Linked DNA regions of Homo sapiens: region 2 is linked to region 1. The links come from fine-mapping of genetic effects on gene expression. A gene starts in region 1. The other region holds a variant in brackets. All regions are shown on one strand. Distances are between the middles of the regions.

Evidence for each region.
Region 2: its variant is fine-mapped to the expression of SPMIP8 in whole blood (TOPMed, PIP above 0.99).

The regions. Positions count from the first base shown.
Region 1 is chr16:57,972,461-57,981,617 of GRCh38, reverse strand. It overlaps SPMIP8 (sperm microtubule inner protein 8), which reads right to left and starts at 5,074. Exons shown (of 8, transcript NM_199456.3): 1 at 4,984-5,074; 2 at 3,579-3,803. The coding sequence starts at 3,801.
Region 2 is chr16:58,005,995-58,015,148 of GRCh38, reverse strand. It overlaps USB1 (U6 snRNA biogenesis phosphodiesterase 1), which reads right to left. Exons shown (of 7, transcript NM_024598.4): 3 at 5,037-5,220; 4 at 823-876. Among named protein-coding and RNA genes, the nearest start is that of USB1, 9.2 kb to the right of the region's middle. RefSeq lists enhancers at 1,874-2,405, 2,406-2,938. The variant T/A (reference allele first, on the strand shown) is at 5,414.

The DNA of each region.
Region 1 (9,157 bases):
ATCACTTGAACCGGGGAGGCGGAAGTTGCAGTGAGCCGAGATAGCGCCACTGCACTCCAGCCTGGGTGACAGAGTGAGACTCTGTCTCAAAAAAAAAAAAAAAAAAAAAAAAAAAAGAGAAAGAGAGAGAGAGAGATTACAAGACTAAGAGAACAGACTCTTTGTGGCAATAAGATACCAAATTATAATAATAATAATAATAATTATTATTATAATAATAATAATTATTATTATTATTGAGACGGAGTGTCACTCTGTTGCCCAGGCTGGAGTGCAATGGCGCGATCTCGGCTCACTGCAACCTCCGCCTCCTGGGTTCAAGCAATTCTCCTGTCTCAGTCTCCCAGTAGCTGGGATTACAAGCACACACTACCACACCTGGCTAATTTTTGTATTTTTAGTAGAGACAGGGTTTTACCATATTGGTCAGGCTGGTTTTGAACTCCTGACCTCAGGCGATCCACTTGCCTTGGCCCCCCAAAGTGCTAGAATTACAGGCGTGAACCGCCACGCCCGGCCAAGATACCAGATTATTAACAGGACCTAAGGCCATGCCAGGCAAGGGTTAAGTCACGCACCCCTACACTTAAAGAATAAACTACAGGCTGGTCGTGGTAGCTCACGCCTGTAATTCCAACACTTCGGGAGGCTGAAGCTGGAGGATCACTTGAGCCCAGAAGTTGGAGACCAGCCCTGGCAACATAGTGTAACCCTGTCTCCACACAAAACAAACAAACAACAACAACAGCAACAAAAATAGCCTGGCATAGTGGTGTGTGCCTGTAGTCCCAGCTACTCAGGAGGCTGAAGTGGCAGGATCACCTGAACCTGGGAGGTCGAGGCTGTAAAGAGCCATGTTTTTGACATTGCACTCTAGCCTGGGTGATGGAGAGAAACTCTGTCTAAAAAAACAAAACAAAACAAAACGAAAAGCAAAACACAAAAATAAATAAGCTATGTTTTAATTGCCATGAGGTTTTTCTTTTTCTCTAGCCCTGGACTTGAGATAAGCAATATTAAAACAATTACAACTCATACAGCTCACAGATGCTGATGAACTGACCCCCTGATCCACCAGCCACAGCTATGCCTTTGATTGCATAAGAGGCTGATTTCAGTAACTTTCTCCAGGTAAGAAGACCACCAACCATGGACTGGTCCTGCCCAGCATACAGAGGCTGCTCACTTGCTGGGCTTCGCGTCCTGAAAAGAACTTTTGACGTATAGGGACTAATTGTAATACATTTAAAGGTTAAGTCTCCACCTCAAAGCGAACATGGGTTGTATGTTACATGCATGTTTGTTCAATATGCCCATGTCAGTACTATCTTCATGAATATTCATAGCTCCTCCTATAAACTATTGAATATGTATGTTTAGCCAACCCTTTGAACATAAAGCTCTTACCCAACCCCTCCTCCTTTGACATGCCTATCTTTGGGCTTAAGCTGGAGGCACACTTTCCAGCCTGTGGGATGGCCACCTGGCAGCTATAACCCCTTGTAAGAAATAAAGTCTCCTTTTCTAAACTTATACATTTATTTTTATTTTTTGAAGATGGAGTCTCGCTCTGTCACCCAGGCTGGAGTGCAGTGGCTCCATCTCGGCTCATCGCAACCTCCGCCTCCCGGGTTCAGGTGATTCTCCTGCCTCAGCCTGGGAGCTGGGATTACAGGCACCCGCCACCCCGCCCGGCTAATTTTTGTATTTTTAGTGAAGATGGGGTTTCACCATGTTGGCCAGGCTGGTCTCGAACTTCTGACCTCACGTGATCTGCCTGCCTTGGCCTCCCAAAGTGCTGAGATTGTGGGTGTGAGCCACCGTACCCTGCCTAAATTTACAAATTTCTGGGTTTTCAGTTAACAGTAATAAAAAGTTGGGGAGCAAAATAACATGTGTTTATATTCCCATTAGTAAACCAGGGAGAGACATCAGAAACTAAGAATGTGGTGGGGGGGTGGTTACCTGTATGCGGGGGCAGTGGGAGTGAGCCTTGTTGCTGTGCATATTGTTATAGCATTTTGAGCTTTGAAGTTCTGACTATTACTTTTACTTAAAGCATATGCTTACAATAAAATACATATCTACATCAGAGCTTTCCTTAAAAATCTAGATTCCTGGCTTCTCTCAGAAGCGGGAAATTGGAAGAACTGGTGACCTGGCTGGCCCCTCCAACATAGCACAGTCTGTGGGGAACCCCGTGGCTGCCGTTTAAATAGGGCAGGTGTGGGTGCCCCTTTTCCCTGTGGAGTGTTCCTTCCCCACGGCCTCCCCACCCACTTCCCTCACTTGTGTTTCCCATTAGGGCCCATGTGGCAACTCTGGTAATCTCCGTGCGGTCTCTGACACCCTCAGCCCACCTGTCACCCAAGCTGGAGCCTAGGTATGGGCCTGCACTCCCCCTGTTTGGCCTCCTACCCTGCCCCGCCTGCACCTACTCCTGTTGACTTTATCTGCTAAATACCTTCTAAATCCCTCCACACGCAAGCTCCTCAGTCCATGCGGGGTTATTCACTAGGCCCGTGGGGCTCTTTTGCCCTGAAGGCCCACACGTCTTCCTCTCCTGCATGGGGGCTGTGAGGAGAGGTCTTTCTCTCTCTTTTCCACATACAGAGATGCTTGGGCAGAAGTTACTACTGTTATGACTCCTACCACTGCACCTGTCAACCTCTGCCCAGTTCTCTCTCCATTAATTACAACAGGCTAGGCACAGTGGCTCATGCCTGTAATCTCAGCACTTTGGGAGGCCAAGGCAGGAGGATCGTTTGAACCCAGGAGTTGAGACCAGGCTAGGCAACATAGGGAGACCCTGTCTCTACAAATAATTTTTTAAAATCAGCAGGGCAGGGTGGCACGTATCTGTGGTCCCAGCTATTCGGGAGGCTGAGATGGGAGGATCATTTGAGCCTGGGAGGTCGAGGTTGCAGTGAGCTGTGATCATGCTACTGCACTCCAGCCTGGGCGACAGAGTAAGACACTGTCTTCAAAAAACAAAACAACAATAACAACAATGGCATCAGCAATACTTTTTGAGCACATATTATGTGCCAGGCACTACTCTAAGTGCTTTTTTTTTTGAGACGGAGACTCACTCTTGTTGCCCAGGCTGGAGTGCAGTGATGTGATCTCGGCTCACTGCAACCTCCGCCTCCCAGGTTTAAGCAATTCTCATGCCTCAGCCTCCCAAGTAGCTGGGATTACAGGTGCCTGCCACCACGCCTGGTTAAGTTTTGTATTTTTAGTAGAGATGGGGTTTCACCATGTTGACCAGGCTGGTCTCAAACTCCTGACCTCAGGTTATCAGCCTGCCTTGGCCTCCCAAAGTGCTGGGACTGCGCCCAGCCTCTAAGTGTTTTTTGTGCCTTATCTCCTTCTAACCCCACAACAACACTTTGAGGTAGGCCTTGTCAATTATCCTCATTGTACTGAGCAGTAAACAGAGGCTCAGACCTGGCCAAAGTGTCCTGGGCAGGGAGCAGCAGAGCTGGGACTGGCCTCTTTCATCCTTGCATCTGTCTCCCTCTTTCCTGAAACCATCTGCCCCTTCCCCAAAGGGGATCCTACACTGGTGTCCTAACCTTTGCGGCAGTAGGTGGTGGACTGGCAGTGCTCATCAGGAAGGCAGGCCTTGACGGTGTCCCTGTCCATGTGGCGCAGGGTGGGCAGGGCTGGGTGGTAGAGCTGCTGCTTCACGCCCGCCAGCTGGTTGCGCTGCCGCTCCATGGGAAGCAGGATGGCCGGGGAGGCATACACATGTGTGGAGCCATCGTCCCAGGGCACCAGGTCAATGATGCGGGCCATAGCTGGGGGGCAGAGGGTTCTAAGGGGCTCACCCTGGGCTCATGCTGGCCAGACACCCTTCTCTGCATGAAAACAACCTTGGCCAGTGCCGATGTCTACTTGCCAAACATTTATTTAGCACCTACTGTGTGCCAGGCCATTTTTCTGGAGCTCAGCATGAGGTGGCAGGAACATTCAGATAACAGAAGATAACAGAGACAACCCTCCCACTCCCCTTCCAACACACACATACACACACACACACACACACACACACTCACATTGTGCCATGGCTGTGAGGGAGGTCAGTACAGAGTGTGTGTTTCTGGGGAGGCTGGGGTTAGGACATTCAAGGAATGGTCTAAAAGAGGTGGTATTTGAGTCTATTCGTTTTTTTTTCTTTCTTTCTTTTCTTTTTTTTTTTTTTTTTGAGACAGTCTCACTCTTCTGCTCAGACTGAAGTACAGTGGCGCCATCTTGGCTCAATGCAACCTCTGTCTCCTGGGTTCAAGTGATTCTCCTGCCTCAGCCTCCTGAGGAACTGGGATTATAGGCATCCACCACCACATGTGACTAGTTTTTGTATTTTTAGTAGAGACGGGGTTTCACTGTGTTGGCCAGGCTGGTCTCGAACTCCTGACCTCAAGTGATCCACCCGCCTCAGCCTCTCAAAGTGCTGGGATTACAGGTGTGAGCCACCTTGCCTGGCGAGTCTATTCTTAAATAATAAGCAGGAAAGTGCAGCAGCAAGCGGGTTCAGAATGTAGCTTAGTATGCCGTATACCTCTGGGTGAATAATTATGGACTTGCCCTAGCTATTTACCCAAAATTCTACAGATTGACTCAGAAAGATTTTCAGGAAGGGGAGCAACATGATATATTTAAACTAGAAAAGCATTACTGGATACCCAGTGCCTCCCTTTAAAAAGCAGATAGTCCCAGGAGCCTTTCAGTCATTTACACTTTAGTGAGAATTTGTTGAGACAGCTTGCTTTCTTCCTGACCCTGAGTTAGAGGTGAGAGGTGGAGGTGGAAGCTAGGGTGGCAGGAGGAGAGAGGACCTTAGATCATGGAGGAGCAGGGAGGGGGCATGGTGACAAGGCATGGGGAAGCTGCCTTAGGGGATGTGACTGCCTGGGGAGGGACAGGGAGGGGGATCACGGATATGGGGAAGAGAGCAAGGGCTCCCTGCTTCTGACTCACCAATAGCAGCTACCTTATCTGTAGGGCCCAGGCCCAGGTGCACAGGCTTATAAGGACTTTCAGTTCTTTGACTGCTCAATGGGCAGAAGAGGAAGGGAGGTGGACGAGCCCTTATTATGGACAGCAGCAGAATAAAGGAACATTGTGCACAGACAATGCCCATTGCAGCCTGATTCTGAGGCACCCACTCCTTAGCAACCCTGGCAACTACAGGCTCTAACAAGAGCCTGTGCCAGAATTCCTGTGCTCTGGCCACTCCCTTCCAGCCTTCCTGAAGGCTGTGGTCTCCCAGGCCTTAGCACAGGCCAGGCATCTTGGGAAATGTCAGATGGGGAGCTGGGGTTCCCTGGAGGTAGTCAGGCCAAGGCAGGCCAGAAATGGCTACTGAGCCCACTGCAGGCTGTGTAATCCTGGGCTAATTACCGCCTCTCTCTGGGACTCAAGGCTCTCCTCTGTGTTAGGCAAGGACTCTAGGATCTGCCGTTAGGAGGATCTGGATGCTGAGAGGGATCTCCCCTCCCTGGAACCCTCAGGGAAGAGGGCACTGCACTGTCTGCCAGCCCTTGAGTCTCCAGGAGTGGAGATTAGCTGTGGCCAGTATCCAGGGTAAGCGTGAGGGGATCAGGGAGAGTGGTGGACTCAGCAGGCCAGGGATTAGCAGATGATACTCCACCCTCAGCCCCTGCAGGACTGCAGGCTCCCAGAAAAGCCAGGCTGTGAGTGCCCAAGGCCAGCACCCCAAAGCCCTGGGGCCTGCCCACCATCCTGGTCACAACCATTAGAGACAGACCCCCAAGGTGAGGAAACCCCAGGAGATCCTAACTTATTTGCATATATTGGCATGTGCTTTTGCATATACCTGCCCAGGGGCTGAACCTGATGGGTCTTGGAGCCCCTCCTGTGAAATTCTTGTAGGATTTGTTTCCCCAGTTGCTCCTCCTCCAGTGCTCCATACAGCTTCCAGAACAGCATTCCTAACTGCTACCCCTTACAAAAAACCTTCCCAGAGTTGACTCCACTCACCACCCCACCCCCAATTTATTTCTTGACTCTTTTAAAGTTATAAAATAGAAGAAATACAGAAAGTGAATAAATATCTAATGTAACTAATAATTTACAAAATGAGACCCCGTATAACTACCACCCACCCTGGTCAAGACATGGAGTACTACTTTTAAAACAGTTTATCAGTTTCTTAAAAAATGAAACAGAAATGTACCATATGATTGGGTCATCTGGAAGATTCTACCCCAGGAGGCTTCCCAAGAGAAATGAAAGTATATTGTGAGGCACGATGGCTCACACCTGTAATCCCAGCACTTTGGGAGGCTGAGGTGAGCAGATCACTTGAGGTTGGGAGTTTGAGACCAGCCTGGCCAACATGGTGAAAACCTGTCTCTACTGAAAACACAAAAATTAGCTGGGCGTGGTGGTGCAAGCCTGTAATCCCAGCTACTCAGGACGCTGAGGCAGGAGAATCGCTTGAACCTGGGAGGCGGAGGTTGCAGTGAGCCGAGATCGCAGCATCGCACTCCAGTCTGGGCGGCAAGAGCAAGACTTCGTCTCAAAAAAAAAAAAGTATATATCTTCACAAAGACTTGCACACAAATGTTCATAGCAACATGATGTATCGCCAAAAAGTGGAAACAACCTGTGTCCACTGATGAGTGGATAAACTGTGGTGCGTCTATACCATGCAATACTCTTGGGCAATGAAAAGAAATGAAGTTCTGATACAAGCTACGAGGTGGATGAACCTCATAAAACATTACGCTACATCAAAGAAGCCAGATGTGAAAACTCACATATTGTATGACCCATTTATATAAAATGTCCAGGAAAGACAAATCTATAGACGCAGAAAGCAGATGTGTGGTTGCCTGGGACTGGGGTGTACGAATGAAGAGTGGTTATCATCTGGTGTGAGGGGTCTTACTGGGGCAACGGGAATGTTCTAAAACCAGATGTGGCAAGAGTTGCACAGTTCAGTCAATGTGTTAAAAATCATGAGTTAGGCCGGGGCGGTGGCTCACGCCTGTAATTCCAGCCCTTTGGGAACCCCGAGTGGGTGGATTGCTTGAGCCCGGGAGTTCGAGACCAGCCTGGGAAACATGGCGAAACCCTGTCTCTACAAAAAATATGAAAATTAAATGGGCATGGTGGCATGTGCCTGTGGTCACAGCTACTTGGGAGGCTGAGGTGGGATAATCACTTCAGCTCAGAAGGTCGAGGCTGCGGTGAGCTATGATCACGCCACTGCACTCCAGCCTGGGTGATAGAGTGACACCCTGTCTTAAATAAATAAATAAATAATAAGTAATATAAAAGTCATTGAGTTGTATACTTACCATGGGTGAATTTTATGGCATATATATTCCCATAAGCTTGTTTTGAAAAATAGATGCCAGCCAAGTTAGTAAAAGAAAGCAAGACATTGGCCCTGCCAGTCCCTAGAAGCTTCCACATACACCTTCCCAATTACAACCCCCAACCCAGCAAGAAGGAACCACTCTCCCATCTTGTAGTACAACCTGTGCTTTTATTTATGGGCAACTATGGAAAACTTTATTTAACAACTCTAGGCTTTATAGAAAACTAGAGGTGGCAAATGTACTTGTGTTTGTAGCCATAGACAGGACAGACTAATTTTGCCTTTTGGGAATTTTGTATGCATGGATCACTGGGGTCTTCTTTTGAATCTGGCTTCTTTCTCTCCATATATATGCACATGAGTTTCATCCAAACTTTAGCCACTGTGTGTGGCTGTGTTTTGCTCATTTTCCCCACCCTAGAGCCCACTACTGTTCCCTCAGGCTCATCTAATTTTCCCTCCTTCCCACTCTGCAGGGGCTCCAACTGCCTCTAAGTTGCCCAATCTCAGGACGCATTTCAAGTCTCAGCTCAGACAGTGGCCCCTTGGATCATTCCCTCACCCCAACACAGCCACTACTCTTGGCTTTCACCTCACCCCATGCTTCTGCTTCTCCATCCCCATCCCTGGCAGCTCCTTCAGGCTCCTTTACCAGCTCCTGCTCTTTTTGCATCCTCTGAGTGAGCCCGTGTTCCAGGTGCCACCTCTGGTCATCTTTGTTTCCTTGGGTTTCCGAGGTGATATCAGTCAGTCCTGTGGCTTTAAGCATCATCTGCAAGCTGAGGCCTCCAAAATTTCTATCTCCTGTAGACCTCTCCCTAAGTCTCACACACACACACACACACACACACACACACACACACATTTCAACCTGGATGTCTCTCAGACTTTTTTTTTTTTTTGCTTAGGCTGGAGTGCAGTGGTGTGATCTTGGCTCACTGCAACATCCACCCACCGGGTTCAGGCAATTCTCCTGCCTCAGCCTCCAGAGCAGCTGGGATTATAGGCACCTGCCACCACACCCGACTAATTTTTGTATTTTTAGTAGAGACGGAGTTTTGCCATGTTGGCCAGGCTGGTCTTGAACTCCTGACCTCAGGTGATCCACCTGCTTTGGCCTCCCAAAGTGCTAGGATTACAGGCGTGAGCCACTGCACCCAGCCTCTCTCAGACATCTTAACAAAGTAGTGCTCATGATTTTCCCTCCAAAATTCTTCCTCCAAACTTCCAGCCTCAGGCTTCTTCTTTTCAGTACATGTGTAAACCAGCCTGGGGCGGTTTACTGGTTCACCCACTAAACCAGCTACCCAGTTTCCCAGGGTGAGCCCCTCAATGCCCGCCTTTTTCCTCCCCTTTCCCTTCTATCTGTACTCCCACCAGCATAGTCCAAGCCCCATCATCCCTCCCGTCAGGCTGCAGGCAAGGGCGAATGTCACCTGTGTTAGTCTCAGGCCCAAGCAGAGCAGAAGGGCTTGCTGCTGTTCCTTGGGGAGGAGCTCTGACCCCTGCAGCCTGGCATATTTGTAGGGAAGGGTCAGGGAGTACATTGAGCTTTACCGTTGGGGTCTGGCCTTGCTGGCAGAAAGAACTTTCTTGTGAATCACTTGCCATGTAGAGGTTGCATTATCAGAGGTCTTGAAGCCCAACACTGGAGGGGAAGCCAGGGGTCATCCAGTCACCAATCAGCTTGTCCCTCCGCAGCCTCCTGACCAGTTTCCTGTTTCCATGCTTGCCTGCTACACAGAGCCACACAGATCATGCCCAGCCCCTGTTCAAAACCATCATCTAAAACTACACTCCTTC
Region 2 (9,154 bases), 34 kb before region 1:
CACCCCACTACATGCTCCTCCAGTCATTATTTATTTATTTATTTATTTATTTATTTATTTATTTATTTTTGAGACAGAGTTTCACTCTTGTCACCCAGGATAGAGTGCAGTGGTGTGATCTTGGCTCACTGCAACCTCCTCCTCTAGGGTTCAAGCGATTCTCCTGCCTCAGCCTCTCGAGTAGCTGGGATTACAGGCGCCTGCCACCACACCCAGCTAATTTTTTGTATTTTTAGTGGAGATGGGGTTTCGCCATGTCAGGCAGGCTGGTCTCGAACTCCTGACCTCAGGTGATCTGCCCACCTTGGCCTCTCAAAGTGCTGGGATTACAAGCGTGAGCCACCGCACCTGGCCTTTTATTTTTTTGAGACAGGGTCTCACTCTGTTGCCCAGGCTGGAGTGCAGTGGTGCAATCTTGGCTCACTGCAGCCTCGACCTCCAGGGCTCAAGCGATCCTCCCATCTCAGCCTCCCAAGTAGCTGGAACTACAGGCACACACTACCATGCTCAGCTAATTTTTGTATTTTTCATAGAGACACGGTTTGGCCATGTTGCCCAGGCTGGTCTGGAACTCCTGAGCTCAAGCTATCCACCTGCTTCAGCCTCCCAAAGTGCTGGAATTACAGGCATGCGCTACTGTGCCTGGGATCTCCCAGTTATTTTTCTTAAAGAAAGGTTCAGATTTGGGGATAGCTGCCTTTATAGTCATAGAGTTGGTTAAAAGCAAACAAAAAATGGGACAAACAAGTCCAGAAACAAAGCACTCAATTTTTGCACCAAAGAATCTTCCTCTGATGGTGATTGGGGGTTGGGAGGACCCACCTGGTTTTCTCTTGATTGGTGTAAATCTTTACCTGGTTGGCAGTAAAGAAGAATCTGAAATTTAGAAGACCATATTTCAGGAAAAATCGTAAGAAAAAAAGCAGAAAAAATAGCTTATGTTAAAAAAAAACAGCACTTTGAAAATATAGTTAACTCATTTTGCACTTCATATTATCACCCCATTATGCAGGTGGTATACTGAACCTTAAACATTAGAGCTGGACAAGACCTTAAAATCACCCAGCCCGAGTAACACACAACATCATCCAGGTGCTAGTAAAAATTTTACTTTGTTAATAGCAGTTCATTTCGATAAACAATTTGAGACTATCTCAACTTCACTGATGGGAACTGAGAAAGCCTTATTGATCAAGTAGGTGATAATGGACCACTTAACAGCTGATTCATTTCTTGCAGTTTTTTAAAATAGATGACTCCGATTTCATCTAAGCAATCACGACAACATTTCTTCGTGTGTCAGGGCTGAGCTCAAGCCTTTGCACACTCTGTTTCTCGAATCCTCACACAACTCTGTGAGCAGGCCTACAATTATGCCCATTTTACAGACAAAGAAACAGAGGCATGGTGAAGCTGAATTTGGTGAGCCAGGATTGGAACAGTCAGTCTGCCTGTTTCCAGAGTCCTTGTTGTCACCTATGACGCTTTCGTGAGGGGAATAGGTCTGTTGGTGTGAAATCGAGACAGATGCCCCCACCCACCCACCCCTCAGATCAATAACACGGGAAGAGTCAGGCTCAGCTAGGTAAGTGCTTTGACTTGGACTGGTTCTGTCCTTTATTCTCTGAGACACTAGCAATCTCACCATGGAAAGTCTCCTCACAGAAACAGATCATTTTACAGCCCCCAGGCCAAGGGTCTCACCCCCATCTGAGGGAACATAATATACCAGCATGCTGGGTAGAGCCTCACAATCTGCCCAAGGGCAAAAGTCAGTCAGCCAACTCTCTGCCTCTGGAGAAAATGTAAGGGATCACAGAACCACCAGGAGCTTGGTTAAGTGCAGCTTTTAGGAAGAGTTCTCAAGGTGTCTCCCAAACATCCTGGAGTGGACACTGGATGTCTGTGCCCAACCAAAACTCCTTCTCCTGGTAACCTCGTGTTGCAGGATGGCTCTCCACCCCTACTCCAGAGGCAGGCTGCCCAGGCCTGGCCAAACAGAGCTTAGCATTTCCTCAGTCACAGCAACAGAATCAGGGGTGCACCGCCCACTCTTGGTCACCTTAGGCTCAACCAGATGATCAAAGTTGAACAGACCACACCTGCCCGGGCTTCACTCATGACACAGATCCTTTCCTCAGAGGGAACCAGCCCAGGGGTCCAGGTGCTGTTTTCTAGTCTCTCAGTGAGCAAGGGAACCAGCCACATATACATCCCACAGGGATCAGTATTTCTTGCAATGGACTTTAGGCAGAGTTTTCCTAAGTCCCAGCAAGGGACTCGTGCCCAGTTAAGGAACCACTGTATGCAGGGGAGCCCAGGCCGTGGCTTCCCTGGAGGGGTGCAGTTCATGCTGTCTTCCTAGCGCAAGTGCAGTGTGCCAGTCATCAGCACTAACATAGCCGCTCTCCTCCTTCATCCAGGGGCAGAGCTTCCGCAGGATAAGGGAAGCACTCTCTGTGGAAGGGGGAAGGGCCTGTTAACTCTTTACTCCCAAAGAAAGCACACAGGAGACGGGTCAGACCAGGCAGTCATTCCTGTGACTTGTGCTGAAGCCAATCAGAGAGGGAGGCTGTCTTTCCAGGCTGGTACACCATTAGCCGGGAGATGCGGTGGCTTCGTCATTGTGACAAAGGAAGGGGACAGAGCTGAGATGGTGAACAGTCTGCCTGTGGTGGTGACAGTCAGGTGCCATCTGATATCTTGTCACCCCGGTCCACTCATGCATGAGCCAGTGCTACCTCTGAATCTTTTAGTTATACCAGCCTATAAATTTCTCTTTGGTTTAAGCCACTTTGGGTTGGGCTTCTGGCATGGGCTTCTGGCACCTGTGGTTAAGAGAGTCCTGATAATATACAATCAATCAACTTGATAATGACAATCCAAAGAGGGGGAGGGCTGGACTAGGTTGAGAGATGAGTTTCAGCCCTTATTCCCTGGCCGAGTGTCTGGATTGGGACAAATCCTGTCCTCCTCTGGCCCTCAGAAGGGGTTCAGCTAACTGAGCAGTTTCCTAGTTGGGCAGTGACATCCTATGGAATTCCTGGGCCTATGGCCCCCTGAACTGTGGGAATGGGGCTTTGGCTAGAAGACTGTTTATTTCTGTTTTACACAGCCACACATCAGGCTTTTGTGCAACACCTCATTTGAAAAAAGGCTCTGCTGATAAAGGCAGGGTCAGAAAACCATCAGCCGGGTGGCTTCTTAGGCTCCTTCTAGTATCAACAGTAGAGGATCCAGAAAGATATTCTCTAGGCTCCCTCATTCCCGCACCATGACTCAACAAGCATCTATTTGATGTCTACTGTGAGCAGAGCACTTGGAAAAAAGCTGTGGGGCAATTCAGAGAGAAGCCACAGTCCTGGCCTGGAGGAATGTGGGCTCCAGGAAGGAAGATGGACACAGGAACGACTGCATATGAGGGTGAGTGAAATGACCACCAGGGGTAAAGAACCACAGGACCAACTGATCTCTGGATGGAGGGGTCACCTGTGAAACAACCACAGGGCCAACTGATCTCTGGACGGAGGTGTCACCTGTGAAACAACCACAGGACCGACTGATCTCTGGACAGAGGAGTCACCTGTGAAACAACCACAGGACCGACTGATCTCTGGACGGAGGGATTCTGCAGGATATGCCAACCGGGAGAGCCTCAGTGAAAGAGCAGGGTTTTGATCTGGACCAGTCTAGCAGGAGATGCATTTCTGGTAGGAAAAGAGTTATGAAATAATCTAATAGGTAAGGGGAAAAAAAAAGCCCCAGGCTGGCAGACAAAACCAGAAGTGGGGTCTGGTACTAACCCTTCACCCAAGTGGTGTGCTGAGGGCACCCATGATCTCCTTTCACCCCCATAGGCCCCCAGTGAGGTAGCTCCCACCATTACCATGACCTGTTTGACCTATCACTGTGAAATGATAACATATGTGTTGGTCTCAGCCTCCAGTTCCTGACACAGAGATCCTAAAACCTGTGTCATTTCCTAAGCAGCAGGGGTGCTAGGAGCATCTTTTGTTCTATTATCTGGTCTGTGATCCTGGCTCCTGACGCAGAGCTCCTAAATCCTTTGGAATTTCCTGGGTGACAGGGGCATCTTTGGTTCCAATGAGGCAATGAGGTCCTGGATGGGGGCTGATCACAGAAAGAGCAAGGCATGATTAGAAGCTGGGAACTTTCAGCCCCACCCCCTACCCTCCCGGTATGGGAGGGAAGCTAGAGACTGAGTTAATAATCCATCATGCCTATGTGATGAAGCCTCCGTAAAAATTTGGAACTACAGGGTTTGAGGAGCTTCCCTTGGTGATTAAGAACGCACCCATGTGCTGGGAGGGTGGCTCACTCCCAACTCCACAGGGTCAGAAGCTCCCATGCTCGGGACCCTTCCAGACCTCACCCTACCTATCTCTTCATCTGGCTGTTCATGTGTATCCTGTAACATATCCTTTGTAATAAACTGGCGCCCTAGTAAGTGGACTGTTTGCCTGAATTCTGTGAGCCATTCTAGCAAATGATCAAACCTGAGGAGAGGGTCCACAGAACCTCTGATTTGTAGTGAAATCAGACAGATGTTGTGGGTAACCTGAGAGCTCAACACTGCAGATGGTGTCTGACAAGGAGCGCAGTCTTGTGGGACTGAGTCCTTAACCTATGAAGTCTGCACTAACCCTGGGTTATTAGTGTCAGAATTGAGTTCGATTATAGGACACCCAGTGGGTGTCTGGAGAGTTGGATAATTTGTTGGTGTGGAAAAAAACTCAACACATCTGGTCACAGAAGTGCTGGAAGTACTGAGCAAGAGCTTACAGAAAAACAGCTGGCTTTTCCTACAGAGCAGATACGGCATCAGGGGTGTCAAGAGCTTCCACGGCATGCCCAAGGTCACGGAGGATGAGAAGTAGAGCAGGCAGCCCCAGGAGAGGGGCCGTGTTCTATCTTTAGGTCTGCCTGCCTGCTGGGGTAATGCCCGCAGTAGCTCAGGAGAGGAGGAGAAGCCATGGAGGGGAGGGAGTGGAGAGGCAGAGGGAAGAAGCACTCACCTGTGGAAGGAGGTCATACGGGCTTTCAGAGCCTGCACGAAGGGGAGGATCCAGTGGTGGCGCAGAACCACACTCTGGGACAGGCTGAGGTGGAACACCTTCATCCTTACCAGCCGGGGGACATATGTCTGGGCATGGGGCAGCAACACATCAAGCAGATCCAGGAACTCCTCCTTGGCTTCATCTGGAGGGGAGGAGTAAAGAGGGCGGGCCGTTCTCTCAGCCAAGGTGCCATGGCTGAATGAAGAAGCCCAGAAGGCAGAGGGAAGTCCTTATTACTCTGGGTTTGGGGAGAAAATTACTTGGACAGCAGCCTATGTCTATGTCTTCTAATATAATTTTATTTTCATTTATTTATTTATTTATTTATTATTATT[T/A]TTTTTTTTTTGAGAAGGAGTCTTGCTCTGCCGCCCAGGCTGGAGTGCAGTGGTGCAATCTCGGCTCACTGCAAGCTCCGTTTCCCGGGTTCATGCCATTCTCCTGCCTCAGCCTCCCGAGTAGCTGGGACTACGGGCGCCCGCCACCACGCCTGGATAATATTTTTTTTTTGTATTTTTAGTAGAGACGGGGTTTCACCGTGTTAGCCAGGATGGTCTCGATCTCCTGACCTCGTGATCCGCCCGCCTCGGCCTCCCAAAGTGCTGGGATTACAGGCGTGAGCCACTGCGCCCAGCCTCCAGTTTTTCTTAACAAGGTCTACCCTCAGGAGAAACTTACTGAATTACAGCCTAACCTGAAAGTGTTTTATCAGACTCTTAACTGACCTAGGGGAAGTGAAATACCAAACTGCAGCACCTTCTGGTCATCCTGTCCCACCTAGGAAGGGGAAAATTCTGAGAAGCGTGTGGGAAGTTCCCAGTCCAGAGGAACCGGCTCACCAAAAGATTGACACCCAATCACAGGACTACAGAAGGATTCTTGTCCCCCACCACCTCACCACCACATTCATACAGGCCTGTTTACCACAGTTCCTTTTACATAGTACTTCATGTCCAGCTATCGAGGAAAAATTACAAGACATACTAAAGGGCAAAAATACAATCTGAAGAAAAATAGTAAGCATCAGAACCCCTTAAATATAAAAGACTAGAAACCATACAATGTCTGATCTCAGGCCACAATGAAATTAGACTAAAAGTCTGTAACAGAAATGTAGCTGGAAAATCCCCAAATACTTGGAGATTAAAAAACACACTTCTAAATAACACACGGATCAAAGAAGAAATCTCCAGAAAACTTTATAAATATTTTGAACAAAATAAAAATGAAAACATAACTTATCAAAACTTGTGGAATGCAGCAAAAGGTGCTTAGAAGAATATTTATAGCATCAAATGCATATATTAGAAAAGAAGATCTAGGCCGGGTATGGTGGCTCACGCCTGTAATTCCAGCACTTTGGGAGGCAGAGGCAGGTGGATCACTGGAGGTCAGGAGTTCGAGACCAGCCTGACCAATATGGTGACACCCCGTCTCTACTAAAAATACAAAAATAACTGGGCACGGTGGTGCGTGCCTATAGTCCTAGCTACTTGGGAGGCTGAGACAGGAGAACCACTTGAACCTGGGAGGCGGAAGTTGCAGTGAGCTGAGATTGCGCCACTGTACTCCAGCCTGGGTGACGGATCGAGGCTCCCTCACAAAAAAAAAAAAAAAAAAGAAAAAGAAAAAGATCTAAAGTCAATCATCTGAGTTTCATCTTAGGAAAGTAGAAAAACAACAGCAAATTTAATCCAAAGTAAGCAGAAGTAAAGAAATAATTAAAATTAGAGCAGAAATCAATAAAATTGAAGACAAGAAATCAATAAAGAAAATCAATAAAACCAAAAGCTGGTTGTTTGAAAAGATCAGTAAATCAACAAGTTTCTAGCCAGGCTAACTAAGAAAAATAGAGAGGGCACACAAATTACTAAAATCAGGAATGAAAGATGGGACATCATTACAGATCCCATGGATAATAAAAGGATAATCAAAGAATACCATGAATAACTTTATGTCCACAAATTTGATAACCTAGATGAACTGGAACAATTCCTTGAAAGACCCGATCTGCTAAAACTCACAAAAGAAGAAATAATCTAAATAGGCCTAAATCTATTAAACAAATTGAATTATTATTATTTTTTTTTTGAGACAGAGTCTCACTCTTTTGCCCAGGATGGAGTACGGTGGTGCAATCTTGGTTCACTGCAATCTCCGCCTCCCAGGTTCAAGCGATTCTCCTGCCTCAGTCTCCCGAGTAGCTGGGATTACAGGCACCCGCCACCAAGCATGGCTAATTTTTTTGTATTTTTTTAGTAAAGACAGGGTTTCACCATGTTGCCCAGGCTGGTCTCAAACTCAGGCAATCTGCCCGTGTTGGCCTCCCAAAGTGCTGGATGATAGGCGTAAGCCACTGCACCCAGCCTGAATAAATAAATAATTACCTTCCGGCTGGGCTCTGTGGCTCACACCTGTCATCCCAGCACTTTGGGAGGCCAAGGTGGGTGGTTCACCGGAGGTCAGGAGTTTGAGAACAGCCTGGCCAACATGGCGAAACTGTGTCTTTACTAAAAATACAAAAATTAGCCAGGCGTGGTGGTAGGTGCCTGTAATCCCAGCTACTCATGAGGCTGAGGCAGGAGAATAGCTTGAACCTGGGAGGCAGAGGTTGCAGTGAGCCGAGATCATGCCAGTGTGCTCCATCCTGGGCAACAGAGTGAGACTCTGTCTCCGAAAAACAAACAAACAAACAAACAAACAAAAATTACCTTCCAAAACAGAAGGCACCAGGCCCAGATGGGTTCGGTTCACTAGAGAATCCCACCAAACATTTAAGGAAAAAATTAAACCAATTATCTATAATCTTTCAGAAGACAAAAGCAGAGAGAATACTTCCTGACTTATTCCATGAGGCCAGCATTATCCTCATACCAATACCAGAAAAAGACATTACAAGAAAACTACAGACCCATATCTCTCATGGACAGAGATGCAAGATTTTCAAGAAAATATTAGCAAATTGAATACAACAACATATAAAGAGAATAATGCTCCACAACTAAATGGGATTTATCCCAGGTATTCAAAGCAGGCTCAACATTCAAAAATCAATTAATGTAATCCATCCAATCAATAGGCTAAAGGAGAAAAATCAAATGATCCTATCAATAAATACAGAAAAAGTATTTGACAAAATCCAATACCCATTCAAGATAAAAACTCTCAGAAAACTAGGAATAGAGGGGAACTTTGTTAACTTGATAGAGAATGTCTAAAAATACCTATAGCTAACTGATAGGAAACTCCAAAGCTTTCCCATTAAGATCAGGAACAAGGTAATGATGCCTCCTCTCACTATTGCTTTTCAACTCATACTGGAAGTCCTAGCTAATGCAATAAGGCAAGAAAAGGAAATAAAAGGTATACAGATTAGCAAAGAAGAAATAAGCCTGTTTTTCTTTTTTTTTTCCCCAAGACAGAGTCTTGCTCTGTTGCCCAGGCTGGAGTGCAGTGGTGCACTCTCCGCTCACTGCAACCTCCACCTCCCGGGTTCAAGCAATTCTCCTGCCTCAGCCTTCTAAGTAGCTGGGATTACAGGCATGTGCCACCATGCCCAGCTAATTTTTGTATTTTTAGTAGAGATGGGGGTTTCGCCATGTTGGCCAGGCTGGTCTTGAACTCCTGACCTTGTGATCTGCCCGCCTTGGCCTCCCAAAGTGCTGGGATTACAGGTGTGAGCCACTGTGTCCGTTTTTTTTTTTTGTTTTTTTTTTTTTTTGAAACGAGGTTTTGCTCTTGTTGACCAGGACGGAGTGCAATGGTGCAATCTTGGCTCACTGCAACCATTGCCTCCTGGGTTCAAGTGATTCTCCTACCTCAGCCTCCCAAGTAGCTGGGACTACAGGCATGTCCCACCACGGCTGGCTAATTTTGTATTTTTAGTAGAAATGGGGTTTCTCCATGTTGGTCAGGCTGGTCTTGAACTCCCAACCTCAGGTAATCTGTCCACCTTGACCTCCCAAAGTGCTGGGATTACAGGTGTGAGCCACCACACCCAGCGTGTTTTTCTTCATAGATGACATAATTGTCTACGGAGAAAATCCAAAAGAACTACCAAAAAAAATTTCCTGGAAGTA